Linked DNA regions of Homo sapiens: all the other regions are linked to region 1. Evidence: fine-mapped expression QTL. A gene starts in region 1. Each other region holds a variant in brackets. All regions are shown on one strand. Distances are between the middles of the regions.

Region 1 (5,077 bases):
TAAAAATAAAAATTTGATTGTACATAGATGTATCACATTTGATTTATACAGGCGCCAGCTGATGAACATTTAGGTTGTTTCATCTTTGGCTATTATGAATAATGCTAACGTTTGTAAAAAAGTTTTTGCATGGACAAATATTTTCCTTTCTCTTGGGTATATATTTAGGAGTGGAATTTGCATTATTCTTATTGGAGTGAAAATCAGAAGCAATTTCATGGTCTAACAATGGAATTATGTTACACTCTCAATAGTATTATGCAGAAATGCTACAGTCTCAAGAGTAACATGCAGAAAAATGGTGGCTTTTTTGAATGAAGACCATATAATAATAGGCTACATGAAGTGAAAAAAAGAAAAAAAAAGGATACAACCCACTTGAAATCCTCCTAGGGCTTCCCATTCCTTCTTCTGTTCTATGGCATCTGTCCTCTGCTTCCACATCCTGCCTCAGTTGTCTGAGGGCCAGCCACACTAGCTTTCAGAGATTTTTAGAACGTCTCAGCTTCGGAGCCTTTTCACATAACTTCCTCTGCTTGTATCATTCTTTGCCCAGTGGTTTCAAGTCTCATCTTAAATGTCACTTCTTCAGAAAAACCTTCTCTGATATCCCAAACCAGGCGGAAAGGCAAGCGTTTCCACAGCAGCCGGCGATTTTCCATCTTAACGGTTTTAATACCAGAATTGTTTACTTGGTCAAATATTGAGAGCCTTTTATACACAGGGATAGAGGGTGAAACATGCAAGATCCCTGCCGCCTGCGACCTTATATTCTAGGGAGGGGATACATGCACAAGTAAACAAGTAAATGTACTTGGTAATTTTACATAGTGATAATTAGCTCAATGGTTATCCTCTGTTTGGACTGTAAACTCCATGAAGGCAGGAGCTATGTCTGTCTTGGCTACTTCCAGTTTGCTGAGTCTGGCCACTAAATAAACTCAACACATATTTTTTCACTGACAGTTAAAATAACTATATAAAAAACAAATGGAAAAAACAAACGAGACTTCTATAAATGGTTGAGATCTAGCTCTTCCTCTTTCAAAACTCTGTAATACTACATATTTTTAAATAATTAAAACAATCAAAATAGCAAAAAGTTACCGTTTGTACTAACAGAACCCCAAATAAAACCCATTTATGTCACCACACATTCTTTAAGCACCTGGTAATAAAACCTATTCGGAAATACTCAGACGTGTTGGTTGAGTGGATAAAATCCCCTTGCCACATTGCCAAGCAGGTTCCTCGCCGTCAGCAGTATAATTTACAGTGTTTCACTGAGGCCTTAAGCACCCATGATTTGATTCTCCCTAATTTTCCGATTCCTAAAACCCTTTAGAATCTCCCTCCACCCACACAATGTGGCAGTGAGAAAAACCGCAATTCTATTTACATGTCAACGGTAAGAACACGTAATACTTTGCTAGGTCAACAAATCTGCAAGATCTCCACCCAAGAGATCAGTAGCCCCTTCCCAGTGAATCCTTCTAAGAGCCTGGGGACGAGTAGGGCTAGATAAAACCAAGCTGCTGTAAAGCTGGACCACAGGAGCGGATCGTGAAATCCCCTCCCCCAAGCGCAGCGCTCGGCCGCTTCTTTCTTCCCCAGGCGCATGCGCAGCGCACTCTCCGGCCACCGCACGCCCCCTCAGTGGGGGCCCAGAGACGCTGACGTCACCGTGCGGTCTGCAAGCAACCCTTCCGCTCCTTCAAGGAAAATGAGTCCACGGACCTTCGGCTTTTCTTAGCCACGAGAAAACGTCCTCCCTCCTTCCATCCTAGTGCCAACGACTTCCCCAGCCCGTCTCCTTTCGGCCGCACTTCTCTGTACTTTCGTTGGACCGGGAAGGCGGCGGGGAGGAACAGGAAGGGTGAAAGACCAAGTCCGCGTAGTTTACAAGGAGTGGGCGAGTCTAGGAATCGGTCCGCGAGGGCGGAGCCGAGGAAGCCGGCACTTCTTCCTCCCTTCCCCTCTCTTCCCCTCCCTCCCCAGCCTTCCCCGCGAGCGGACGCGGCAGCGCCTCTGTCTCGCTTTTTCTTATTTTTCCCCCCTTTCCCCTTTCTTTTTTTTTTTTTCTTTTCTTTTCTCCCCTCCCCCCCTTTCACCATTTCCCCTCGGAGGCGCTTTCCCCGGGCAGGGGCAGAGCCGGTCTCACCCCCCGCCTCTCCCCGGCCCCCGCCGCCCTATGGCGAGAGGGAGCCCCCTCCCAACCCGGGCTCGAGCGGCGGCGGCCTCAGGCCGGGGGTCATCATGGAACTAATTCGCTGACCGACCCAGCGGCCGCAGCCGTGCGTCCCGCTCGAGCGCCAGCGCCCGCGCCCGCGCCCCCCGATCCGCTTCCCCTTTCTCCCTCCTCAGTTGGCCGAGTCGTCCCGCGCGCACCGCCTCCGCGCGCCTATGAGAATGAGGTGGTAACGGGCCCCCGGATGACCCCGCGTCACCACTGTGAGGCCTACAGCTCTGCCGGGGAGGAGGAGGAGGAGGAAGAGGAGGAGAAGGTGAGGGGCGGGGGCGGGGGCGGGGGCTCGACGCGTCTCCGCGGCCGGCGTCGACGCGCTGGGGCCCCGCTGCTCCCCCCGCGCCGCCCCCGTGGCAGCGCCCTTGGCCGCGCGCTGCTCGCCGGAGACCCACCCTCCCGCATCCCCCAGCCCGGGGAACCTCGGGGCCGCCCTCTTCGTCCTCTCCGGCCCAGACAGACCCGTCACCTGCCCACTTGAAAACGGCACTACTGTGTTCCTTTTCGGGCCAGTTTTTCTGTCAGCGAGTAACTTTTTTTTGTGGCAGCGGCAAATTAGCTACTCTATAGTGCGTGTTGGAGGCTCTACGAGCCCGTGTTAATACACAAAGAAGGGGACACACCCCCACCCTCAGGTTGAACGATTCTCCGGGGACACCAGGAGGATTACTAACTTTGCACGGCAGACTGAATGCCAAATGAATGGGGTGAACCTCCGGTGCTGTGAAATTCGGGGGAGGGCAACGTTACCCAGGGCTTGGGGCGGGTGGGTGGGGGGAATCCGGGGGAGGTGAGATTTGAGTTGTGCTCTAAAGGCTAGATTAAATAACTGGAATTTGAAAGGAGGACAGAGGAGCCTCCGCTGGAGCTAGGGGGCTCCGTTACAGATCCTTTTGGCAGAAGTTGACAATTGGGTATCAAAACAGTGGAAGGTGTTTCGGGAGGTAGGATGGATTCAGACTCTGAAGGGGTTTGAACTAAAATGTTTATGTTTTATTCTGTCAGTGGGGAGCCACTCGACTTAGAGCAGCAGAGCATTACAGTAATGACGTTAAATAACAACATTTGATGAGGCTTATTATCTGCCAGGCATTCTCCTAAGTGGCTTGCAATTCACTTAATCCCCCCAAGGCTGGTAGTAGGAGCCTCATTTTACAGATGAGGAAAACTGAGACTCCACAAGATTAACTTTCTCCTTAGGTAACGCGGCTAAAACCCAGTAGCCAGAATTAAGTCTGATTCTACGCTGTGTGGTCTCTGTCCTGAAAATGAGTTTGTTGAAATAGCAGTGTTATCTGCTGCTAGCTTTTCCAGGTCATTTGTGGCAGATGAAATAGAAAGGATTGGACAAATAGATTAAGAAATAATGGACGGAATAGATGTAGATTGGCTAATCTGGGACCAGAGAATCTCCGAGAGATTCTGAGCCCCTCTACTAGAAATTTCTTGATACCGATGAAGGGCAGACTAATACAGTCAGCATGTGTTAGGGAAGTTCAGTAAAAATGATCTGCAGTTACAGGTAGTTTATGTGGTAATGTGACATCCTAGTAGGTTAGAATGGAGCTTAGCATGTGTGTTGGTCAAGATTGGAAGCTGAGTGTGTCCGTGTTTTGTTTTGATTGTGTAATACATTAAAAATGAATATTCATCTTCCTATGTATGTTTCTTCGTCTTTAAAATGGGCTTTATGGCTGAAATGGGGGTGTAGTAAGAAAAATAAAAAACTAGAAAAAAAGGGCTTTCCACAGTTTCATCAAATTGTGGGAACATTACATGAGTTAATATGGCATAGCGCTTTGAACAATAGGTAGTCAAATAGTAAGCACTCAGTGCTTTTACTTGTTAAGCTGTTTACAAGTGAAGCTATTAGGCATATGCTCAACTCTGGAGATTAACATCAAAGAATTCATTATTAGGAAAGGCAAGTTTACCAATAGTCTCAAAGCAACTAAATGTAAAGGTAGAATTATGTCCAAGTACAGATGTTGGAAGGCAGGGCACAACTGCACAAATCCAGAGAGTCTTACAGACTGATGGCTACTTTAGGAAGGGAAGTATGAGCTAGAGGACATTTCAAGTTGAAACAGCAGTGCTTGTACAGCCAGGGAGATTGGGAAAGAGCATACACTTGGAATTGCAAATACCTTTAATTCATTGTTTCTAGTGCATAAAGTCAAGGAGGGAATAGTAGAACTTCAGTTTCTTGTATGGCCACGTTAATCCCTCCTTTCAGAAGAGGAACTAAGATTCAGAAGTCAGCACTAGTACAGGATTATTAATGGAATTGGTGTGATGATGATAGCAAATACAATAATACATATTAGTGAAGTTGTTTATATTGTATACCCAGCACTGTGCAGCACTTTTCCTCAGAGGAGCAGGGGGCCCTGTATGTATATCTGTAATAGTTATGCTGTACAGTAAGCCTTTTATAAACTATTACCTCAGACATTAAGCTATTTGATAACCGTGGAGAAAGGAGAAGCGGCAGCAATTGAGAGGATGGGAGGAGAAATGTGAAACTGGCATAAAGTTTGATGTGTGTGGAATATGCCAACTAAAATAGTCTTTTGTTATTTCTTGCTTTTCTAAAAAAGCATGCAAAGTTGGATGTAACCAACAATAGGCATACAGTAACAAAACATAACTATATAGTTCTGTTAAAACTAAAATTGTATTTTAAATGTTTGCATTTTCTTAGCGGAATTTATTAATTCAACTCAAAATGTGCTTTACCCGTAGAAAATAGGCTTGTGCACTGTCAGTAAAAGAAAAGCCAAGCCCATGCTTTCTGTATCATAGTATGTCTTACTAGTCTTGTCTTTTGTTCTT
Region 2 (5,077 bases), 130 kb before region 1:
ATGAAGGATTAGAGATGAGTTTAAAATAAAGCATTACTTCATTTTAAAAGTTAAATATACCCCAATTCTGCTACAATAGCTTTAAATTCTTCTGTTCTGGTCAACATACTTCTGAGGGATGTGAGATTGGCCTCTGCTGTGAAAGCTATTAAAACAAAGCCTTTTGGTTGTTTTCCTCTGAGTAGCATTGCTATCACTCCAACCTAGATTCAGTAGGTTAAACAAGCTTATTTGTCACATGAAGAACTCAGTACATTAAGCACTATATGCACAATAGTCATTCTGTACAAGAACATTAACATGTACCTCAGTTACCTCTAGATAACTATCATTGTACATTTGTAGTCGTCACCTGTCACCTGTATGTTCTTCCAACGAACCATGTATTTCTTCCCCTTTGTTTGCTAGGGTGTGGGTTTAACAAAATTTGGCATTTTCTATTTATTGTGTTTTACAAAGTATTGGTCCATGGCAGATCAGAACCAAATGGGTCCTTTAGGTAGTCTCAAAAGCTAGTCGGGGTCATTTTAACTTTAACTGTAGTTGAGACCTATTAACTCACTAGAAGATCAGCCATTTCTAGGCACTAGGCTAAGGTCCTAAGCCTTCCATCCAAGCACAAGAAGGTGTTTAGGGAAACAGGTTTCTCAAAACCAGCTCAAGATTTGCAGCTATGTTTATTCTCATATACCTTGAGCAAATGAGAACAAAGCAATTAGCCTTGTGTGGAAGGAATGGAGGGATTGTGTTGATAATGCCAACCCTAGAAGCCATCTTAGGAGAAGAGGCAAGAGGCCCAAACAATGAAGCAAGGGTGAAGCAAAAGCTGCCAGAGAGGACCTAACGGGGCCTGCCCTCATGTTTGGAGCCTTGGACTGTTTCAGGAATTAGACACACGGGGTCTTGCCACTTTGAAGCATGGGGCACAACCAGTTTTAAACTGCCATCAACAGGGGGCGCTTAGTAACCATAAAAGCTTGACTGAGTTGCAAAGCCATGACTTTGCTAACTCTTGAAAAGTGAGCTGGACGTAAGGATGCTCCCCGTTTGGAGTGAATGCTTTACCACAGCAGCATAGACACCGTTGAAACATTTACTCAGAGTCGAGTAGAGTAAGCTACTTGGTCTCAATTTCATACTGTCTTCAAGAGCACAGGTGAGCCATGGCTATCTGCTATGCTGGTTAGACATGCAGTCATGTAAGCTTTTCTTAGGACCAGTTCAGCATAGTTGTGGAACTTTGTCACATTGGAAGGCCTCATGACCCCAGTTTGAGGGGTTTCTCCCATCGAGACCCATTATCCCAAGGGCTCTCTCCCAGAGTCCCTGCTGCTGCTAGGGACACAGTCACAGGACTTAGCCTCTAGCAATCAGAGACACCAGGACTATTTCAGAAAGGAACAAGGAGTCAGTAGGTGGAACCATTTTAGAGTAGGGCAGCTACTTAATTTGGTGGGTTTAATGTGGAGGAATTGGTGAGCATATGAGACCAGAGCAAATCAATCAACTCCTGCTACACTGAGTTCTGGACATTATCTCATGTTTTACTCACTCGTTTATAACCTGAAAGCAAGGAAAAACTTGTTACAAGAATAAAACAAAAGCTACATGTTTAGAAGGGCCCAAGTTTACCAAGATTGCCCAACAACCCTGTTTTTCTAGCTTCTCTCCCCTCTGCGAAATTTGGGAGTTGGAAAGATACATCAGAAGTCAGTGATAAGTTTAGAGACATGGTTCTACCATAGTCTAACTCAGCCAAGCCTTATCTTTCTAGTATTAGGACTAAGACATTTGGGATTCACGAAGGGTTGAGATTTACCAGAAAAAAAGCCATGGGGTTAAATAAATGAAAGATACTATAACAAGGAAATAAAGTCAATAAAGGCAACAGCTGGAATGAGAAAGTCTGTGGGTTGGAGATTTGTGTCAAGAGAAGTAGTCTTAACAGGCCTGAAGTGGAATGACTTGAACAAGAGACTTGAACAAGCTGGAGAGGAAGACGGGGTGAGTGAGACAAAACTGGGTTGTTTAGGACAAAGTACAAGGTGTTAACCACCTATTCATGAGGAATTCCAGTAGGAAGCAGTTGACAGGAAGGTGAGTCAGGGGATGGGGAAGGTGTTTTCACAACCATACTAACACCTCTTCTTGCAGAACTAGTTATCTGGCTGTGGACCCAAACCTGGGGTTCAGGTCCCAATACACTTTGTATAAGGAAGACCTTGTGCAGGTTTAGCTTCAGATTATCATATAGGTGATAACCACCAAGGACAGAGTAGTTGAGATGTCATATTCCTGGCAGATCCGGCCCATAAATGCTTTCTCAGGTATGTCAGGTTAAATAGAAACTGATTATGGTAACACCTCCAAATAAGATTTCTATCAGTTCTGGTTTGTCAGGTGACATACTAATTGCCTCACTAATCAGACAAGTATTGTTACGCTAGTCTAGATTTTTACTGTTAACAGGAAGGTATATGAATACATTGCTTGTATAAAACAAGCAGTCCTTAACTGGTTTTATTAAGGCACTCCCGAGAGATGTTAGGTGCAGTTAAGCCACAGGCCAAGAGAAAAGGGAGAAAAAAAGAACAGCAAGATATGCTGTAAATTATGACAGATTTACTCCACCCTTTTTATGTCTATTTGGTCATTTAGTCATAGACAATCAAGTACATGACTAAGCTCAGGACATTTAACCCATTACACCCTGCCACACCAAAAGCTTTTCATAGAAGCCCCATGTTACCCAC[CACG/G]TTGACATTTGAGTCAGTGTACTCAAGAGCCAGGTAAGCACAGGGAAACAATCATTTCCTGTAGCATGAGTGGTCTTAAGACATCTAGCTTCCTGTTGAGCAAGGTAAGAATGACATCCACCCGACTATTTGATTTTAGAGGTTTAGCTTATTGATCCGAGTTATACCTGACCCTTAACCATAAAGCATTAAAGTGAGACGTTTGTTCTCAAGGCAAGCTATAGCAAGTCACTGTAAGAGGAGTAGTATATGGAAAGACTTCAAAACAACCTAAAGTGAACAATTTCCTAGGTTTGAGAGATTGTGAGGGTGACACTGAGCCTCAGTTTTTCTCTATAAAATAAAACCCTGAGGTAGTTACTCCTATAAGTGAACCAATATGAGAGCATTCAGAACAATGGCATGAAGTCAAGTCTGGGTGACTCTTGTACATACTATTCCTTGTCCACATTCATAGGTATTTTGCAAGTTGAGTCATGACTGGTCTGTTCATAGTCACCATGGTCCTATACATTCATGAATCAGTATGTATATGGTCTTAAATGCCTGCGACATTAAGAGGAAATCAGCTCACTACCCAACAACCTTAAAGCAAAGCAGTAAGAATTAAGGATAGGGAAATAGAACCTTAAAAGATGACAAGAGGTGGGTGGGAAGTGGTATAAGATTAGGCAAAAGTAACTAGTATGAACATGAAAATAGAACCAGAATGCTGAGAGAACCCAAAGAGATGGCTATATATGGAACCAGAGTGTTCTTAAAAATCCACCCCAAATTGACCAGAAGCATGGTAACTGGAAGTGACGTGAAACCACCTAGTAGAAATTTGAGCAGAAACTGCACAGCAGTGGGGAATTCACTATGAAGTATACCAATAAGTGTGGCTTCCTCAACCTGTAGAGGCTGTGTTGGTTCAAAACAATGTTGCATAGGTTTGGGGATACCCATGGCATTGTTTATAGTTCTACTTCCAAGTTCATCTGGGAATGTGTCTCATCTATTGATCTGACAAGTCTTTCTCAACCCTGTGAGAGGTATAGAAATCTTTGAAAGACATGCTAAAGATACCCAGCTCCTACAAATGGTGGGGGTGGGTGGAGAATAGAATAGCAAGCAACAGCTAGCATTTGTGAGAACTCTGATTTCTTATGAGCTAACAGATCTATTAGTTCAAATTGTACATGTCCCCATATAACTAGGGACATGCCTACTACCAGTAAAGTTGACAAAATGCAGTCAATCCACTTAGTACCTGATCATAAGCAAAAAACTTTAAAATGCAATTCCACGTGTTGAAATTTAAGACATCAAGAAAGCCCCTCTGAATCATGGTTGTGACTGAGTATCTACTGGAAGAAGCTTCTATCACCAGGGAGGGTCTTTACCTATGCACTCAAATCCTATGGAGTCTTGGACAAAGCAAAATAGTCACTGAAATATTACACGGCAGGTGACAAACTGACAGCTGGGAGTTCAGCATGTTTCTCTCAGCCTAAGTCAAATGGACACCAGCGAGTTTTCCCGTGCATTGGGTCCTTTGCTGTTGCTAGGCTTTATTTCCGTCAAGACTGATTCATTATTCAAGGGCAGTTACAGGTGTATGTGTACAATAATTATCTTCCATTAGGTCACATGTCTGGCCAGTCTCAAGCTCATCTTTGGTCAAACTGTTCATGTCGCATTAGCTCAAGACCAGGATGGACATATGCAGACTCATCCTAGACAAGTGCTTTTTATGCTGGAGTAATAGCCAAAGTTTAGCTTGGGTGAAACATTGGATGCCTTTGCTGCTGAGTCGAGGGAATCACTGGTTTTTATTCTGAGACAAACTTTCCAAATACTCCTTGGTAAGTGAAATATGGGCAAGTTCTGCCTAAGAGAACAGTAACTAAGATCAAGTTGAGAAGACAGTTGTAGGAAGGACTGCTCCAATTACCATAAAGTGTTAGTTGCCTCCCCAACAGGCTAACTTGCTGGTAGAGGCTCACACAAGGTGAGGGAAACAACTCTTCCATCACACTCAAATCCAAGTGACAAGATAGCCAAGTCTGTTATACAAGCTAATTGGTTAAAGCAGAACACTTGCCAGAGGAGCTCAAGTATTTGGCTCACTTAAATGTCATACACAACAAAGCCAGACAGTGTTTGAGATTCTTCATTACCCTCAGTATCAGTCACAAATAATCTAGCATCATACAGAGAAAGCAGTGAGGGGAAGAGCACAGGAGCTTCCAGGTAATGGCCCTAGTTAACTCCGGGCCTCAAGTGGGTTCATAAACAAGTTGGTCCATGTTCTGGTTAGTATTTTTGTCAACTGCCCC
Region 3 (5,077 bases), 150 kb before region 1:
GCCTTTAAGGTCACAACTGATATGCTTAAAGTTCATCGTTCCTTTTAAAACACATTCCTGAAGTGGCAGAACATCTTAGGGAAGCATGATTAGATAATCCAGTACATTCTCTTGTTAACAGGCAAGGAATTCTACATGGGCAGGAAATTTTTGAGCTAGGATCCACCCACAACTAGTAGTTGTGATTGACTACAAGTCCAACTAGATTCCATTTTAAGATTCGCTTGCTTTGTGTTTCTTAATGTAGCTACTAAAAGTTCCAGTTACACAGGTGGCTCACAATGTTTCAATTGGACAGTGCTGCCCGCCAGGTTATCAGTAGGTAGAGCTCCCTGTGCTGAGTGAGAAGAATTAAAGTCTTAAGAGGATGATGTCTACGATGGCACCCAAGGACAGCCATCTCAGAGTGCAGATGCTCTAAGGCCTCAGCATGCCTGTCTCTGCTACCTGGCATTCTGGTCTGACCCTGGAAAGTTCTCCAATTATATCTACTCCATTACCATTTTCAAAGAATGCACCAAGACTCCTCAGCTCATTCAGGCTGTTGTATCTTGATCCAAATAGTCTTACCCCATTCATTGACCAGAAGATGACAAGGGGAATTGGAAGAGGATAGAAGACAGACTTTGGTAGCATCTCAGCAGGCTTACTTGAGATTTAGAGCCTTAGTTTTACCACTTGGCCTCCCACAAGAGAGACTCAGAAGGTAGCATTACTTTATTAAAAATGTAATGTTGATCAAACATGAAGACTCCAGAGTCTACTATCATGTTACCTCTGCCCTATAATTTAGAAATCTAAATTTCTAGTTCATTGAGTTCCTTCTTAGCCAGAGTTGTCATTCTAATAGAGCAAATGGTTGGGTCAAGCTAAGTAGCAGCTGCCAACTCACATAGGCTATTGCTTGTCTGTTGCTGCCAAACAAATGATCCCAAATTAGCAGCTTAAAACAGTTTCCAAGGGTTAGGAACACAAGTACAGCCTAGGTAAATGCCTCTGGTTCACGTTCTCTCATGAGGTTGCAATCCAGCTGTTAGCCAGATAAGTTTCCATTTGAAGGCTCAGTGTCAGGGGGATCTGCCTCCAAGTATACTCATGGCAGCTGTCACACCTCAGAATGTCTACTTCCAAACTCACTCACAGGTGGTGAGCTTCAACTCCTGACAGGCTGTTGGACTGAGGGTTTCTGCTACTTGCTGTGACACTTTTATCCTCCATGGGGTGACTCATAAATGTAGCAGCTTGCCGTCTCCTTGAACAACTGATCAAAGAGAAAAAGACCAACTACAGAAGCCAGTCTCTATAGCCTAATCTTGGAAGTAATGTACCATCAACTTCTTCCATTAACTATTCATCACAAGGCAAGTAACTACATCTACCCTGAAAGTAGGGTGCTTACCACATGTGAGGATCACTGGGGCTCTCACAGGTTGCCCACCTCCCCACATGGACTGTGCTATCTCCTGCGTCCTATCACTCCTTATCTTGTACTTTGCCTCATGGCTCAGTTACCTTGGACACCTCTTAAGTTTTGACACCTGCTGTTGAAAGGCATGAAAGTTTTCATCTGAAGTCAAGAGATAATGGAGGTCTTGCCTGAGACAGAGGGTCCTGACACCACTCGGGATTTGGATCAGGAGTTGGTTTTTCCACATTGCAGTAACAGGCAGTTCCTAGAACCCCAAGGACCATCATAAACTGAATAGCCAATTTAGCTGTTTCGGAATGATACTAATAAAGTCTGTACCTATGGGATCCATCCTCTAACCTATCATTTTGGTACACCTCCACACAGCTCACTTGCGTCTCCCTGGCCTCTGTGCTTTACTAGCACCTGGTTCTAGGCAGCTCTGTCGACTCTTCTGAAAGCTCATTGTCAAAGTTACGACACATCAGGCAAGTAAAAATAAGTTAAAACTCCCACCCCTCTCATGGGTAGAGCCACTTTTGATCTCTTGCTTATACATGCAAGAAGACTGGGACAGGACTGCTCCTGCCTGAGGAGTACACCAACCTGAGGAACCTGCAACAGGTACCTAGAAAAGCCCTGCTCCAGGCGATAGACAAGTTCTGGCTTTGTTGTTCTTCCTTGGATAGGTCTTTCAGAGTGTCTGAGTGAAGAGGGTAAAGATGGAATGGCCTTAGGACAAGAGATCTTGAAGCTTCAGGCTACCTTTGACCAAGGCAGAGAAAAGTCTTTCAGGTGGTCCAAGCCAT[T/G]TAGACTTACATTGAACTACCTTGATTTATACATGCTACGATCATCAGATGCAGAAAGGGCGTTTAACAGTTAATCTTTTCATGGAGAAAAGGGAATTAGGTATAGAAGTGTTTTGAACACAAAAGGCCATATATTGCAAGCCCACAACTAACATCATACTCAATAGTGGAAAGCTGAACACTCTTCCTCTAGGATCAAGCAACAAGACAGTTGCTTCACTACTTTTGTTCAGTGCAGTAGTGGAAGTCCTAGCCAGAGCAAGGGGCCAAGAAGAATCAAATGCATCCAAATCAGAAAGGTAAAGTAATGTTGCCGTTGTTTGCAGACATCATATAGAAAACCCTAAAGACTCCACTGTTAAAACTAATGAGTTCAGTCATGTTGCAGGATACAAACATACAGGAATGTAGCATTTCTATACACTACACTGCCCCAAAAAGAACAATCCCACTTAATCAAAAAAAGACTTAGGAATAAGTTAACCAGAGAGATAGAAGATCTTCGTACAGAAAACTAAACACTGAAATTTGAGATAAATGGGAAGATATCCCAAGCTCATAAGATGCAATATTAAGATGTCCACACTACCCAAAGCAGTCTACAGATGCAAAATTCATTTTCATAGAAATAGGAAGAAGAGTCTTAAAATTCATAGGATAGCCTGCTAGGAAAACTTCTGCTAGAACAAATCCGCTAGAACACTACCTGATCTCAGTGCCAGGTTAGTTATCCTAGCAGTATGATACCAGCATTAAAACAGACCAATGGGCCAACAGAACAGGACAGAAAGCCAGAAAAACTCAAACATATGTAGTCAACTAGTTCAGTGGTACCAAGATGACACCATAGGGAAAGGTTAGACGCTTCAATAAGTGGTTTTGGGAAAACGATTTCTACAGGCAAAAAAGGAATTGAACCCTTATACACAAGTGACTAATGGATTAGAGCCCTAAATCAAGTCCTGAAACTAATACCCCTGCAAGAAAACACAGTTTGACATTGGTCTTGGCAATTATTTCTTGAACAGGATACCAAAAAGTATAGGCAACAAAAGCAAATTTAAGTGAGACTACAAATTGAAGAACTTCTACACAGCAAAAGAAACAAAATGAAAAGGCAGCCTATGAATTTGCCGGAGTATTTGCAAACAATATCTAATAAGGTGTTAACATACGAAGTTTAGTCAATTCACATCTCAATATTAATAAAACAACCCAATTTTCAAAGTTGGTAGGAGCTAAATAGACATTTCTCCAAAGATGACATACAAGTGGCCAGATATATATGAAGTGCTCCACATCTCTGGTCAGGAAAATGTCAATCAAAACCACAATGAAGCATCACCTCATGTCTGTTAGGATGACTTTTCAAAGAGACAAGCTGGTGTTGGCAAGAATGTAGAGAAGGGAAGGAAACCTTGTCTGCTGTTGGTGGGAATTAGATTGGTGCAGATGTTATGGAGAACAATATGGAGCTTCCTCAAGAAGTTAAGAGCCCAACATTTCCTCTTACAGGTATATACCCAAAGGAAATGAAGTCACCACCTTGTAACGATGCCTATGCGCCCATGTTCATTTTAGCATCATTCAGCCTTAGAAGGCAATCCTGTAATTTGTGACAACATGGATGAACCTGGAAAATATTAAGTGAAATAAACCAAGCCAAGACAACTCATGATCTTATTGTAGAATCTAAGAAAACCAAATATTTAATACATAGAAACATTCAAACAGTGCTTACAGAGAACAGGGGGAAGTAAGATGTAAGTCAAAGGGGTATAAAGTTGCAGTCATGTAGGTAAAGTCTGGAGATCTAATATGCAATGTGAGAGCTATAGTTAATACTGTGTTGTACACTGATTTGAGACAGGGTCTTACTCTGTCGCCCAGGTTAGAATGCAGTGGGGCAATCTCAGCTCACTGTAACCTCAACTTCCCAGGATCAAGCAATTCTCAGGCCTCAGCCTCCCAAGTAGCTGGGAGTACGCCATCATATCTGGCTAATTTTTGTATCTTTAGTACAGTTTTGCCATGTTGGCCAGGCTGGTCTCGAACTTTTGGCCTCAAGCGATCTGCCCCCCTCAGCCTCCTAAAGTGCTGGGATTACAGGCATGAGACACCGCACCCAGTCCCACTGATTTGAGTAGATTTTAGGTACTCTCACCACACAGGTTTATACGTGCTACAGAAGTGACATTTAAAAGGACAGACCATTACTGATAAGTGTTCTATGATCGTCCTGAAAAGTTTGATTCCTACAGATTCTCCTTAGTTTGATTCTTACATTATATTTAACAGATGTTGGCAGTATATTAGCCTCTACACACTGTATCCTACTTGGAGTTGTTAAGGAGGCAGCTTTAGGCTAAACTTACATATTAAAGTTCAGCCTAAAGGTTTCTCTATACATTGTTAATTACAATAAGTGGAGTTATAACCAGACCACAGCCTACACTTGTGCCAGAGTTGGCCAATCAAATGTAGTCAACCATTCAAACTATTCAAATAAGCAAATGTCAAGCTGCAACCAATTGGCTGTTTCTGTACCTCACTTCTGTTTTCTTTATAACACTTTTTCTGTCTAAGTCTACTACATGTGACTACGCTGGGGTGTCTGAGCATACTTTGGCTCAGGAGGCTGCCCGAGTCGTGAATCATTCATTGCTCAACTGAACTCTTAAATTTAATTCAGTTGAAGTCTCTTATCAGAATAAAACTAGTCCTCATGGACTCTGTTGGCAGGTATCCAGTAACTAAAGCTCAGTTCTATTTCGGGTAGGGGGTGGGGGCAGGGGATGGGACATGCTCAGGAAAGGCAGTGGCCCTACTAGGAAAGATGTGCCGAGTACATTCGTGTGAG
Region 4 (5,077 bases), 30 kb before region 1:
CCCATCTTTGTGTCTGTGTGTACTCAGTGTTTAGCTCCCATTTATAAGTGAGAACATGCAGTATTTGGTTTTCTGTTCCTGCATTAATTCACTTAGGATAATGGCCTCCAGCTGCATCCATGCTGCTGCAAAGGACATGATTTCATTCTTTTGTATGGTTTTGCCAACACTTATCTTTTGTCTTTTTGATAATAGTCATGCTAACAAGTGTCAGGTGATATCCCATTGTGGTTTTGATTTGCATTTCCCTGATGATTATTGATGCTGAGCATTTTTCATATACCTATTGGCAACTTGTATGTCTTCTATGTCTTTTGCCCATTTTTAATAGGGTTACTTGCTTTTTTTTTCACTATTGAATTGTTTGAGTTCCTTGTATATATATTTTGGATATTAATCCCTTATCAGAGATAGAGTTTGCAAATATTTTCATCCATTCTGTAAGTTGTCTCTTCACTCTGTTGTTTCATTTGCTGTACAGAAGCTTTTTGTTCCATGTAATTCTAACCATCTATTTTTGCTCTTGTTGCCTTTGCTTTTGTGGTAATATCCAAAACACTCTTGCACAGACCAAAGTCATGGAGTTTCCTCTAATGTTTTCTTCTAGTAGTTTCATTGTTTCCGATCTTACGTTTAAGTTATTAATACATTTTGAGTTGATTTTTGTATATGATAGGAGATAAGGGTCTAATTTCATCTTTCTGCGTGTGGATATCCAGTTTTCCCGACAGAATTTTTTTAAGAGACTCTCCTTTCCATTGTGTGCTCTTGGTGCCTTTGTCGAAAATCAGTTGGCCATAAATGCATGGATTTACTTCTGGGGTCTCTATTTTGTTTCATTGTTCTATATGTCTGTTTTTATGCTGTTTTGGTTACTATAATTTTGCAGCTTATTTTGAAATCATGAAGTCTGATGCCTTCAGCTTTACTCTTTTTGCTCAAGATTGCTTTGGCTATTTGGTGCCTTTTGTGGTTCTATACAATTTTAGGATTGTATTTTCTATTTCTGTGAAGAATGTCATTGGCATTTTGATAGGGATTGCATTGAATCTATAGTTCATTTTGGGTAGTATGGACATTTTAACAATCTTAATTTTTGCAATCTATGAACACAGGGTATCGTTCCATTTATTTGTGTCTTCTTCAATTTCTTTCATCAGTGCTGTATAGTTTTTAGTGTAAGGATCTTTCACCTTCTTGGTTAAATTTATTCCTAAGTATTTCAATTTTTGTAGCTATTGTGTATGGGATTGTTTTCTTAACTTGTTTTTCAGACAGTTTGCTATTGGTATATAGAAATGCTACCAACTTTTCTATGATGATTTTGTATACTGTAATTTTACTGAATTTGTTTATTAGATCTAACAGTTTTTTTTTTTGGTGGAGTCTTTAGGGTTTTTTCAGTATAAAATCATTTCATCTTCAAAGAGGAATAATTTAACTTCTCCAACAAAGAAATTCAAATCACCAATAACACCAATCTTCAGTGATAATCACTTCTAATATTTTTTAAAATATACTTCCAGCCTTTTTTATAAGCACAAATAATTTTTTGAAACAAAATGGATTATGTTGCACATATTTGAATTATTTAAGATCCTTTGAATACAAGCAACTTCAATCAGATTGACTTTTAGGTATTAATTAAATAATTAATTCAATACTTATTGAGTACCTACAATATACAAATAATTTCATAGCATGAAAAAAGAAAAAAAAAAAAAACAGACAAACTGGCCAGGCTCAGTGGATCATGCTTGTAATCCCAGCACTTTGGGAGGCTGACGTGGGAGATCACTTGAGCTCAGGAGTTTGAGACCAGCCTGGGCAACATGGTGAAACCCTGTCTCTATTAAAAATTCAGAAAGAAAAAAAAAATGCTTCTGTTTTCAAGATATCGGGATATCAGGACACTCCCAAGTCTGGGTCTGTTTAGTAAACATTATCAATCTGTTCCCTTAACTGTAAACATCGAGAGGCTAGGAATACCTAACTTGCTGGGTACGCAGCCCAGCAAGTCCCAGCCTCATTTTCATAGTCCTTACTCCAGATGGAGTCGCTCTGGTTCGAACACTTGACAGTGGTGTGCACCTGTAGTCCCATCTACTCAAGAGGTCGAGGTGGGAGGACAGGCTGAGCCTAGGAGGTTGAGGCTGCAGTGAGCTGTGAACCACTTCACTCCACCCTGGGTGACAGAGCAAGATCTTGCCTCAAAAAAAAAAGAAAAGAAAAGAAAAAAGAAAAAAAAAGAAAGGCAAAAAAGGATCTCACATTTCTCACATTTGGAAATTTTTGTTTGATAGCCTAGAATTTAACTTTACAACACTATGGTAAAATGCAACCACATAAATGAACACAACCCTACAGTGTAGCATAGGTTTATTATGGTTTAAATAGACCATCTGTATGTGCTCAAGTTTGCAACTAAAATTAATAAGGTCGTGTTACAGCTTTAAAATCCA[T/C]GCAGGAACGTTTTCAGGAAGCAAAGGGCTATGGTTTTGTCTAATGAGGCAGGCCTACAGCAGGGCTGCATTCACTTGGCACGATATGCTTTCTGTGTCCCGAGGATTCTCTTGGGACATATTGACTTACCTGGAGCAGGTAAACAAACTCACTGGAGAATGCAGCCTACACCCCAGACATGATTTTGCCTTTACACACAACCGCAGGACTGAGAAGCTGGGCTTGGCATAGGGCCAGGCAGACCGCTGACAGAAGGTTAAGAAGGAGAACTCTGCAAATGGGCCACAGAGCCTCAGGACTGGATCTACTCAGTAGCTTCCTAACATTCTGGCAGAGAGTGACATTCTTTATAAAGCAAGAAAGAAATTTTCCCTCATTTGGAGCTAGAAAGTTTTATGCCTAAAATAAATATGATTCATGTCCCAGGAAAGCTTGGTTCTGAAGAACTCTGTGTCCTTGGCTGACTTACACCTCCCTCACGCCTTAAAATCTGATTTCCGATTCCCAACCTGAGGTGCAAACTCTACCCTTTATTTTCAAGGTCCAGGAAGACCTGGACCCTCAGAAGGTCACTCAAGAGGAACCATTCTTTGGGACAGAATTATGCAGCTTATGTCCCAAGAGTTTGTTTGAGCTCCAGTTGTCAGAAAAGTGTGATAATTCTATGGTTTTCCCCCTTTTACTCTACCACTGGAAGTCCCCTAAATTTACTTAGCAGTATTTCCCTGAAGCTATAAAGCCAAGCTATTTTTTTCCCCTTAACTCAGGAATGTTTTAATATGTAAATATGAATTCCACAGAGATTTTGCTTGACTACTATAGTTTAAGCTGTCAAATTAGTTCAGTGATTTAATTCAGTAAACTCCATTATTTCTTTTTCTATTGCAAATTAATATGCAGGTCATCTCTTCAGATACGTGTGTTTTAGGCCGGGCACGGTGGCTCCCATCTATAATCCCAGCACTTTGAGAGGCCAAGGTAGGTGGACCACCTGAGGTCAGGAGTTCAAGACGAGCCTGGCCAACATGGTGAAGCCCCGTTTCTACTAAAAAATACAAAAATTAGCCGGGGGTGGTGGCAGGCACCTGTAATCCCAGCTACTTGGGAGGCTGAAGCAGGAGAATCTCTTGAACCTGGGAGGCAGAGATTTCAGTGAGCTGAGATCATGCCACTGCACTACAGCCTGGGCGACAGAGAAAGACTGTCGCAAAAAAGAAAGAAAAAAAAAGAGATATGTGTGTTTTAAACTTTATGCATAGTAGCAATCAATTATGTGATAAAACCATTAAATTGCTCAAAGAAAAAAGCATTCTTAACTCATAAGATTAACAAAGTTTCTTTAAACAAGGCCAGTTTTTTTAAAAATAGATCTGTCAAAATCTGTTTGAATAAAAAAATTTAAAAACACTAAAAATAAACAACAGGATATTCAATTCACAGCAACCAATTAGAAGGGGCCCAGTTTACCTGAGCCAGCATAAGGAAGTCCCCTTTGTTTTAACCCTGTAAGGAAACTAGCTCTGTAACAACCAATTCTCTTTTTGTTCCTTGTTTCTGCTTTCTTTTCTTTTTTTGAGACGGAGTCTCGCTCTTGTTGCCCAGGCTGGAGTGCAATGGCACAATCTCAGCTCACTGCAGCCTCCGCCTCCCGCGTTCAAGCGATTCTCCTGCCTCAGTCTCCCAAGTAGCTGGGATTACAGGTATGTACCACCACACCCGGCTAATTCTGTATTTTTAATAGAGACTGGGTTTCTCCATGTTGGTCAGGCTAGTCTTGAACTCCTGACCTCAGGAGACCCGCCCGCCTCGGCCTCCCAAAGCGCTGGGATTACAGGCATAAGCCACCGCGCCCTGCCTGTTTCTGCTTTCTTTAGCCTTCTTCTACCTATAAAGCCTACTTCCTGTGCTCGGCTAATCAGAGCACCTTTCTAATTTTAGAAGGGATGGGGCTCCATTCACTAATCACTAAATAAAAGCTAATTTGATTAAAATGAATTTGTCAAAAAAATTTTGACATATATATATATATATATATATATATATATATATATGCATGATACAAGTATCATAAGCACTTTGTAAAACAGATACACTATATGTCATAGAATATAGTAATTGCGGTGCCGCGTGGTGGCTCACACCTATAATCCCAGCACCTTGGGAGACCGAGGTGGGTGGATCACCCGAGGTCAGGAGTTTGAGACCAGCCTGGCCAACACGACGAAACCCTGTCTCTACTAAAAATACAAAAATTAGCTGGGCATGGTGGTGGGTACCTGTAATCCCATCTACTCGGGAAGCTGAGGCAGGAGAATTGCTTGAACCCGGGAGGTGGAGGTTGCAGTAAGCCAAGATTGCGCCATTGCACTCCAGCCTGGGCAACAAGAGTGAAACTCTGTCTCAAAAAAAAAAAAAAAAAAATATATATATATATATATAGCGGGGGGCGGGGGGTGGGGGGAGGAGGGGAGAGAGAGAGAGAAATTGCAGTATTTGGAGTAATTTTCTCACCAGTAATCTCATTAACCTTTTTACTTAAGTTGCATTTAGTATTCATTTGTTTATTTCTTAAGGAAAAATGACATCTACAGAGCATTTTTTTCTTCCAAGTAAT
Region 5 (5,077 bases), 57 kb after region 1:
CAGTGCCTTTGTTTCCTCATCTGTAAAATGTGGATAATAATGACATCAACTAGGTAAGTTAGTTGAGATAATGCAAATAAAGCAATTATCACAATGCCTGACAACATATGTATTAATCTTCACCCACCAGATCCTTCCATCATCACCATCTCAATCCAGCAAGCATTTCTGTGATGTACCACCATGCCACTCTCGCCACTGTCTGGGAGACACCTGATTGCTAGATGCCTTCATACCTGAAGGGTTTGCTGTCAGGGTCAGTGTCCTTGAACCCCATCTCTTCAAGCTTACAGCGTCGGTACAATTCATAGTGGCGGGTGTGAGTCTGCTCTCGCAAGTCCTCCATGTTCACGCGGATCAGCATCTCTCGAAGTTTCACAAAATCGCAATGATTTTCATTCTCAACTACAAGAGAGGGGGGAAATGGCGGAAGTGGGATTAGCAATGATGTCACTGAAATATCTGCAGTGATGCTTCCAAGATGTTATTACCATCACTCCTGAAATCTCTGGGGTCTCAAGACCATCTGAAGATCCTTTACTGGATTCACCTTACATTCCTGACGAAGACAAGATTTCTGACAACATTGACCATAATACTGATGACAACGCTGACTGCTGAGTGCCTACTCAGCACAGAGCACAGAGGGAGGAGCTTGAAAACAAATATTGTCTTTACCCTTCATAATAACTCTGCCAACTAGATGTCATGACTCTTGCTTTGCAGACGCAGGAGCTTGGTGAGCAAGCTGACCTCCCAAAGAGAGGTAGCAGGGTCTAGATTCAAATGCCAGAACATCTGGCCCAAAGCCAGATGTATTTGTACCACTCCATGCTGTCTATAACTGTGCAGGGCCACTTTTACATACCACTTCATTTAATTTTATCAACAACACTAGGAAGAAAGGAGTTTTCTTATTGTAGAGAAATTAGTAAGAGTAAGAAAAATTGTATTTTTCCCAGGGATCTCAAAGGTACTGTTTCTTCTCACAGCTTTATTGCCTTTATTCAAAACAGAGGAAAAGGAGGTCTGATACATCTTAAACCAGCGAAGAACTTTCTTTAGCCATCCTGCTTAATCCATAGCACTGGATGTCCTCCTTCAGAACATAAGAGTAGGTCATAGAGTCCTTGTCATTCAAAGTGACACACGTGACAAGCTTTCAGGTTAGACTGTGGCCATGTCCCACAGTGCCAAATATAGATCAAATATTCTCCTAAGTCTCAGATTTACTAAGATAACATTTTATTAGAAGACATTTTTTGCATAGTTGATGGAGAAAAAAGTACCCTCTTGTTTGCAAGAAACTTTTTGCTGCTTTTTAATACTTGGCTGATGAAACGAGCTCCAACTCCTAGGGAAGAACTATTTTTCAATCAGGACTTTATATTAATTCCCTACACAACCCAGCATCCTTGAGGGGTTACCTCAAGGGCTTGGCAGCCATGTCTCTCCATTGTCTACCTAGCTGATTACTTTTTCTTTCTTCCTCACCTCCACGATTGTCACATGTGGAGCCCCACCACTCCCTCCCACTGCCAGCCCACTGTTGAGGGCCTCCCTAAACAAGACGGAAAATGAACAAACACGGCCATTCACATAGGGGCTAAATATGAAGACTCCATCTCCCATGCTGTGCACATACCCTGCACCACACCCCAGGGGTACTGCCTGGCCTTTGCCATCTTGTTGCCAATCTTCACCTCTTCGGTGCTGCCAACCACTGCAAATGGGAGATGGACCTGCCAAGCAAAAGGACAGAGAATAGTTACTTTCCCCTGCTCTGACAGACTGGTTTCCACCAGTCTCTATCTTCTCCCTCCTTCTGCAGGCCTCTACTTGGTGACAAGGGAAAAGCAGGCTGCAGTTTGGTGGGTGGATGTCACGTATCCCACCCCCCTTATAACCAAACACTGAGTATGAGACACGAGCTAGATTCAAGGGAAAAGTGTATGAGTCTTTGCAACTATAAAGTAAGCTTAAGACTTGTGCTAGCCGATGCAGTAGCCACTAACTATATGTGACTGTTGAGCACCTGAAATACAGCTTGTAGGAACAAGAAATTGAATATCTAACTTTTAATTAGTTTACATCTAAATTTAAAATGGAAGCAACGTAAAATATTTTTCAATTAAATGCAACTTTATTGTTTTGGCAAAACTGCATTTCACTTTGCTTCAAACTCAAATCTTCTGAAAAAGACCAAGGTAGATGGCAAGGTAGACACAAAGATTAAAGATAAAGTATCTTTTTGGCACTTATTTCATATTGAAAATCTTTAAGGTATGTTAGGAGAAACCTGTATGTAAATTTAACTTTTTAGCTGTGAATTTTACAAAATGTAAATACAGATAAAATATTTTTGGTGAAAATTCAGTCCACGATGAGATATGCTGTCATTGTAAAATATACACTGGATCTCAAAGACCTACATTAAAATATCTTTTTTTTTTTTTTTGAGATGGAGTCTCGCTCTGTTGCCCAGGCTGGAGTGCAGTGGCGCGATCTCGGCTCACTGCAAGCTCTGCCCTCCGGGTTCACGCCATTCTCCTGCCTCAGCGTCCCAAATAGCTGGGACTACAGGCACCGGCCACCATGCCCAGCTAATTTTTGTATTTTTAGTAGA[A/G]ACGGGGTTTCACCGTGTTAGCCAGGATGGTCTCGATCTCCTGACCTTGTGATCCGCCCGCCTTGGCCTCCGAAAGTGCTGGGATTACTCCGAAAGTGCTGGCGTGAGTCACCGTGCCCAGCCTAAAATATCTAATAATTTTTATATTGAATACATGTTGAAATTATATTTTGCAACATATTGGGTTAAGTCCTTAAAATTAATTTCACATTTCTTTTTACTTTTTTAAGGTAGCTACTAGAAAATTTTAAAATACTTGTGTGTCTCACATTATAGTTCTATTTGAACAACACTGCTTTAGACAGTTGACTATTGCACAAATTTCTAAGTCCGAAACACACTTTAGCCCAAATTACTGGCTCAAGCTATGCACCCAGATTTATCTGAAGTAGAGATGGTGTCCAAGACAACTGACTCTTTCACATTGGTTTATTTGGTAGTTATCACTGCATTCTGAGTGAGGGAGGAAATAATAATCCTATCTTTTTTCTATTAGCATGTAAGAATAAGATTTGAAATAGCTGCTCCAAGAATTATTATTTAGAGTTCCTTGATCCAGTGTTCTTCCACCATAGATACACTGAGAAAGAAGATAAAGTTTTCAAGCCAATTCCTCTCCTACAAAGAACTTGGCATAATCATTGGCTCAGATTGCCCAAGTAGCATTTTGTTGGACGCTCAAGATATTGAAATGTTCTAGTTCATCTCACACCCTAAGAAGGAAAGAAAGCACATTATCTTTCTCAAACAAGTCTGAGTTTCAGACCTGAACCCTATTGTTTCCCCTGAAGTTGAGGAGCAACAGGACCTTTCTGGTCAATATTTTGGTGTAATGACCAAGGAAATTTCTCCACTCAAATGTAACAAAAGCAACTGCCAGTGGAATCTGTTTTCCTCAGACATTACGTGGAATTTGATCAGCAAGAATAGTTTGTAATGAAGAGCCTAAAAGAAAATTTCTTTAAAGAGCAGGATTAATTTGGAATGTCAGAGATTCAGTTCTATTAATCTGATAAAGAGAGAAAGAGAGCAAAAATTCTTGGGTATTTTATTTCCAATAAGTTTAACAAAGATATAGTTCCATGACTAGAAAATAATGAAAAATTATCTAGAAGGATAGGAATATAAAGAAAAATTACATAGCAGTCATTCATGATACTTCCTGAATCCCACACTGACATCCCAAATTACAGTTCTACAGCAGAATAAAGGAGTGCCATCTCAGTTTGAGATTTTGACCTTCCTATAAAAAAGTACAGACCTCCTGCAGTATCCACAGGGTACCGGTTCCAGGACTGTCCATGGACACTGAAATCTGCAGGTGCTCAAATCTCTGATATAAAATGGTATAGTATTTACAAATAACCTATGCACATCCTCCTGTATACTTTAAATCATCTCTAAATTACTTATAATATCTAAGACAATGTAAACACTATATAAATAGTTATTATACTCTATTTAAAAAAATTTTTTTTGTAGAATTTATTTTTTATTTTCTTGCTATGTTGACCAGGCTGGTCTTGAGCCCCTGGCCTCAAGTGATCCTCCCTCCTCGGCCTTCCAAAGTGCTGGGATTACAGGTATGAGCCACTGTGCCTGGCCATATATATATATATATGTGTATATATATATATATATATATATGTGTATATATATATATATGTGTATATATATATATGTGTGTGTATATATATGCTATATATATATTTTAGCATATATAATATATATGCTATATATATTATAAAAACAATAATACAAAATATATATATATGCTATATATATACACATATATATATATATTTTGTATTATTGTTTTTATTGTTGCATTTTTTTTTTCCAAATATCTTTGGTCCATGGTTGGTGAAATCCATGGATGCCGAGGCTGATGGTACACTGCTCTGCTCGGGCGGCAGTACACAGGGTGAGAGTGTAGCCTGACAGCCAAAGCCTGGGTTCCAATTCTACCTCCACTACCCACAGCCATGCAATCTTAGGTGCTGTGCTGCAGTCTCCTCATATATGAGGGAGGAATAATAACAGCACCTACCTATGCAACTGTTGTGAGGATTAAATGGAAAGTCTTGAACAGTTCCTGGTGCATAGTAAATGCTCCAGAAATGTGAAAAATGTCAGGTGCTATTATTATTATGTAGCTCTCAATACCCACAACCAGAGAATTTTAGAGGTGGAAGAGATCTTGCTTATTATACGTTCAATCCTGCTTAAGAATTCCTGCTACAGTATCTCTTCCAAGTGGACTGAAACAGGGTCTGTTATCTACAAACCACTGGCGATGGGAACTCACTACTTCCCAAGAAGTAAGGTGTATCTTCCATCTCAGTGGCTCTACTAGTTAAACACTCACTTCGTAATGGGACCAAAACCCCTTGGTGATCTTTTGTCCATTCATTCTTTTGCACAAGTCTAGCCATTTTCCCTTGTGGCAAC
Region 6 (5,077 bases), 75 kb before region 1:
TATCTCTGCAACCTGAGAACTTGAGAACTAAATGCTCGGTTGACTCTGAAGCCCGACTCAGTACTTTGTTATCCAGTGCTCTCTCTTTTACACGAATAATCAACTGAAATAAATGAAGTAGCTTTGACATAATGTGAAAAGCCTGGCAAAGGAGAGTGAACTGAGAATTCGGCAATGCCTGAAATCAGAACTAATCATCTCAAAATCATCTTAAAATATATTTTAAGTGGCTCAGGCTACATTCTGGTACATTGTACATGATTCTTTATGTAACACATTTTTCTTTCATGGTTTGTTTCAAGAACCATGACCTAACTCAGAGATTTCCTGTCTTTCCTTGACATCACAGTGCTATATGAAGTTGACACTGTCAGCAAAGAGTAACTTAGGATACATCTGTTGAATGTATCATCTTATTTCCAAAAGAAGTTTTACTGTCTGTGAGAGTCATGATCTCTTTTTTTATCTCAAATGAAAAGGCAATTGATGTTTAAAGTGATATGGATAAGTGGTATAAGCTTAAAATTTGCTTCTGTTAACATTTTAAAGTGTTTTCAAAATGAAATTTTTTTTTTAACTTTAAAAAGAAAGACTGCTGTTGAAACCCTGTCTCTACTAAAAATACAAAAATTAGCTGGGTGTGGTGGCACACACCTGTAGTCCCAGCTACTTGGGAGGCTGAGACAGGAGAATCACTTGAACCTGGGAAGTGGAGGTTGCAGTGAGCCAAGATCACGCCACTGCACTCCAGCCTGGTGACAGAGCGAGACTCCGTCTCAGAAAAAAAGAAAGACTGCTTTATATCAAAGATCCTCAGGTCTGTTTAATTACGTATATTTTTATGTTTTCAACCACATTCTGAATAAGAAATTGTGGCTACATGCAGAAGTAGAACCAGATTTAAGGTAGTACATTTGAAGCTTTACTATTTGGAGGGGCTCTCTCTAGGAAAAAAAGAATTTACAAATACAAAATTAGATATGAAAGTGAATACTTATTTAAAACGAGACAATTCAAGACAAAGTGTAAATTTTAAACAGTTGTTACATACTGACTGCTTCGGCTATCTACTGCTGTACAATGAATCACCCAAAACTTAGTGACTCAAAACAACAATAATTTTATTATCATCACCCACAGGTCTGGGGCGTTGCTTGAACTCAGCTGGGCAGCCCTTGCTCAGGGTTTCTTATGAAGTTGTAATCAGATGGTAACTGCGGCTGGCATCATCTTGCTGCCACTCACGTGTCTGGAGTTGTTGCTGACTGTGGGCTGGGACCTCTGCTGAGGCTGGTGGCTGGAACATTTATATGTGACCACTCCACGTGGTCTTTCCATTTCCTCATGGCATGGTGGCAGGGCCTGAAGAAAATCAGGTGAACACTGTGTCTCCTTTTACAAACCAGCCTTGGCAGTCAGATAGCATCTATATTAATTTCACACTGATGGTCTAGGAAATTACCACAAATTTAGGGATTTAAAACAACAAATGTTTATCATATTACAGTTCTGGAGGTCAGAAGTTCAAAATGGGTCTCACTGGGCTAAAATCAAGGTGTCAGCAGGGCTGCAGTCCTTCTGAAGGCTCTAGAGAGTATTCATTTTCTTGCCTTTTCCACCATCTAGAGGCCACCTGCGTTCCTTGGCTTGTGGCTCTTCCTCCATCTTTAAAGCCGGCATCATGGCATCTCCAGATCTCTCTTGACTCTGACTCTTCTGCCTCCCACTTCCAGCTATAAGGACCTTAGTGATTACATTGGGCCCACCTGAATAGTCCAGTATAGTCTCACCATCTCAACGTCAGCTGGTGCTTGCTTCAGCATCACATATATTAAAATTGTTTTTTTGTTGTTTTTTTTGTGTGTGGGGGGGGTTGTTTGTTGTTTGTTTGTTTGTTTTGAGATGGAGTCTTACTCTGTCACCCAGGCTGGAGTGCAGTGGCACGATCTCGGCTCACTGCAACCTCTGCCTCCTGGGTTCAAGGGATTCTCCTGCCTCAGCCTCCCAAGTAGCTGGGATTATAGGTGTGCACCACCACGCCCAGCTAATTTTTGTATTTTTGGCAGAGACAGGGTTTTGCCCTCTTGGCCAGGCTGGTCTTGAACTCCTGACTTCAGGTGATCTGCCCGCTTCAGCCTCCCAAAGTACTGAGATTACAGGCGTGAGCCACCACGCCTGGCCACATATATTAAAATTGGAATGTTACAGAGAAGATTAGCATGGCCCCCATGCAAGGATGACAGGCAAATTTATGAAGTGTTCCGTATTTTTAAGAAAAAGAAAAGTTTGGGCATGGTGGCTCATGTCTGTAATCCCTGCACTTTGGGAGGCCGAGATGGGAGGATTGCCTGAGCCCAGGGCTTCTAGACCAGCCTGGGCAACATGGCAAGACGTTTTCTCTACAAAAATTTTAAAAATTAGCCAAGCATGGTGGCATGCACTTGTAGTCTCAGCTTGGGAGGCTGAGGTGGGAGTATCACTTGAGTCCAGGTCAAGGTTGCAGTGAGCCATGTTCACACCACTGCACTCTAGGCTGGGTGACAGAGAAAGACCCTGTCTCAAAAAAAAAGAAAAGAAAAGAAAAGAAAAGAAAAAAAAGGTCAGCAGATTTGCAACCTTAATTCCATCTTGCTATATTACATAACATATTCACAGCTGGTGAGGAATAGGATGTGGACATTTTTGAGGGACCTTTATTCTGTCAACTACAACATCCTTTCAGCCACAGTCACATCTACTCAGGTTCAAAGACAGGGAACGTAGATTCCACTTCTCAATGAGGGATGTGTCAATCACCTTATAACAAGAGCATGTGGGATAGGAGATACTGTGATGACTGTCTCTGGAAAATAGTCTTTTACATTCACAAACATAAAAAATCTGGAAAATCCCATAATATTTTTTATTAATAAACTGCCTGACATATGGCTGTACAACTTTTTACCAATATTTTTGGCTGTATACTCTCTGATCACCTCTTCATATGATAATA[ATATATTAATAT/T]AATTTTCTGAAGAGAACTTTTTTTAAATTTAGTTTTTCCTTTAATATGGCTAATCAAATTTTGTTTTTAAAAAATTGTTGCTGTTTTAAAATGTTTATTTCAGTTTTATAATTCATTATTAATACCATAGTATATGTTATGGTTGATATTAGATTTGGGAAAATCTTTACCAAGTTTTTTTCTGCGTACAAGCTATAAAAAATCCAGGATACCAGTGAAAACGGATAGACTAATTATTTAGCTTCTCATCTGTTTCTTCATTGCAGAAGCATATTTTGAGGTTTATGTCATCTTTGTCAATGTCAGTATTTTGTATCAAATCAGCAAGAAATTTCTATATTTTGTAGGATTTTATGATTCCTTCCTCTTAATAGAGTATCAAACAATCCAAGACTTATCCATTACTTCTAAAAATTTCTCTTTTCCCTGTAAGGAAGCACTGGTTTTAGAATGATCTGGAAAAAGTGTTATACATAGTTTGCTTCTTCGTATCTGAACAAGAAGCAATGTCATCATGCATTTTTATCACTTTTATTTCATATCCCATTAACTTTTTATGTAAATTTTCTCTTAGTTCTTCAATAAAAGCACTTTTAGATAACAAAACAGAGCACCTTTCTTTTATATCCAAATTAGGTTTTTATAATTCCTCATTGTTTTATTGGAACAATCCAAAATGTGTTTTTAAATTTTAGTTAAATGATATGTTTTCAACTCAACTTCCCCTTAGATCCCCAAAATGCTGGTGGACACTCAAGCACCTCTAAATTCAAGGGAAAATGATACAGTGAAATTTGACATGGAGAAAGATAGCAGCCTTAACTGATTGTAATTAAAATCACTTACTTTCACAAAACTCAAAAAAATATATATGTGAACTGTATCAGTCAGGGTTCTCCAGAGAAACAAAGCCAATAGGATATATATAGATATAGTCATGCACAGCAAAATGATGTTTCAATCAGTAACGCATCACATATACAACAGTGGTTCCATAATATTATAACATTGTATTTTTACTGTAGCTTTTATCTGTTTAGATATGTTTAAATACACAACTATTTACCATTGTGTTAGAGTTATCTACAGTATTTGGCACAGTAACATGCCGCAAAGATTTGTAGCCTAGGAACAGTAGGTTATACCATATAGCTTAGGTGTGTAGTAAGCTATAGTACCAAAATTTGTGTAAGTACACTCTATGAAGTTTACACAATAATAAAATTGCCTAATGACGCATTTCTCAGAACTTATCTTCATCATTAAGCAATGCATGACTGTATATAGAAGGAGATTTATAATGAGGGATTGGCTTATGCAATTATGGAGGCTGAGAAATCCCACAATCTGCTGTCTGCAAGCTGGAGGCCCATGAAACCAGGTGGTGTAGTTCCAGTACAAGGCCCAAAGGCCTGAGAATCCCGGAAACCAATAGTGTTAAGTCCCAGTCCAAGTCCAAAGGCCTGAGAATCAGGAGCACTGATATCCAAGGCAGGAGAAGATGAATGTCCCAGCTCAAACAGCAAGGGCAAATTCACCCTTCTCCTCTGCCGTTTTGTTCTATTCAGGCCTTCAGCATAGTGGATAATGCCCACCCACATTGGTGAGTGTGGTCTTCTTTACTAGTCTACTGATCCAAATGCCCTTCTCTTCTGGAAATGCTTTCACAGATACACCCCAAGATGTGTTTTGCCAGCTACCTGGGCATCCCTTAGTTCAGTCAAGTTGACATAAAATTAACCAACACATGAACACTCTGCTAGGGCCACTCCTGAGAACTTGGAGAGAGTGTGCAAATGAGGGCCCCTGAAGCTAAATTTCATTAGCTTTATAATAATCTACATGTAGTAATCAATAATGAAGTTGTCAAGCACCGTATTCAGTGATTTATATGTCCTGACATAACTTTAATGCCTGTAACACACACAAGTGGTAAGTACCATCACACAGACCCAGAAATAGAGTCCCAGGGAGTTTATGTAACTTGATCCCACAGCTAGACAGTGGTGGAATCAGTGTTCAAACCTAGACAATCTGACTCTAGCATCCACACTCTTAACCACTATTTTACAG

Alleles and levels. Positions count from the first base shown, and alleles are read on the strand shown. Sizes are in standard deviations (SD) of each study's normalised expression. Not every link is listed here.
In carriers of allele G in region 2, the expression in esophagus mucosa of the gene that starts at base 1,987 in region 1 tends to be higher than with CACG alone (small effect, 0.14 SD a copy in GTEx).

What was found.
Region 2: its variant is fine-mapped to the expression of CCNI in esophagus mucosa (GTEx, PIP above 0.99).
Region 3: its variant is fine-mapped to the expression of CCNI in esophagus mucosa (GTEx, PIP 0.94).
Region 4: its variant is fine-mapped to the expression of CCNI in whole blood (INTERVAL, PIP above 0.99).
Region 5: its variant is fine-mapped to the expression of CCNI in whole blood (TOPMed, PIP above 0.99).
Region 6: its variant is fine-mapped to the expression of CCNI in whole blood (TOPMed, PIP 0.96).

Annotation. Positions count from the first base shown.
Region 1 is chr4:77,072,899-77,077,975 of GRCh38, reverse strand. It overlaps CCNI (cyclin I), which reads left to right and starts at 1,987. Exons shown (of 7, transcript NM_006835.3): 1 at 1,987-2,504. RefSeq lists enhancers at 821-1,791, 1,690-1,919 and silencers at 2,100-2,449, 2,510-2,659.
Region 2 is chr4:77,199,672-77,204,748 of GRCh38, reverse strand. No RefSeq gene overlaps it. Among named protein-coding and RNA genes, the nearest start is that of CCNG2, 45 kb to the right of the region's middle. The variant CACG/G (reference allele first, on the strand shown) is at 2,754.
Region 3 is chr4:77,221,281-77,226,357 of GRCh38, reverse strand. No RefSeq gene overlaps it. Among named protein-coding and RNA genes, the nearest start is that of CCNG2, 67 kb to the right of the region's middle. The variant T/G (reference allele first, on the strand shown) is at 2,218.
Region 4 is chr4:77,102,696-77,107,772 of GRCh38, reverse strand. No RefSeq gene overlaps it. Among named protein-coding and RNA genes, the nearest start is that of CCNI, 29 kb to the right of the region's middle. The variant T/C (reference allele first, on the strand shown) is at 2,463.
Region 5 is chr4:77,015,830-77,020,906 of GRCh38, reverse strand. It overlaps SEPTIN11 (septin 11), which reads right to left. Exons shown (of 10, transcript NM_018243.4): 6 at 1,646-1,742; 7 at 237-405. LOC105377291 (a long non-coding RNA gene) reads left to right here. Exons shown (of 2, transcript XR_001741734.2): 2 at 131-5,077. Among named protein-coding and RNA genes, the nearest start is that of CCNI, 58 kb to the left of the region's middle. The variant A/G (reference allele first, on the strand shown) is at 2,627.
Region 6 is chr4:77,147,522-77,152,598 of GRCh38, reverse strand. It overlaps the pseudogene RNU6-1187P. Among named protein-coding and RNA genes, the nearest start is that of CCNG2, 7.1 kb to the left of the region's middle. RefSeq lists an enhancer at 1-5. The variant ATATATTAATAT/T (reference allele first, on the strand shown) is at 2,993.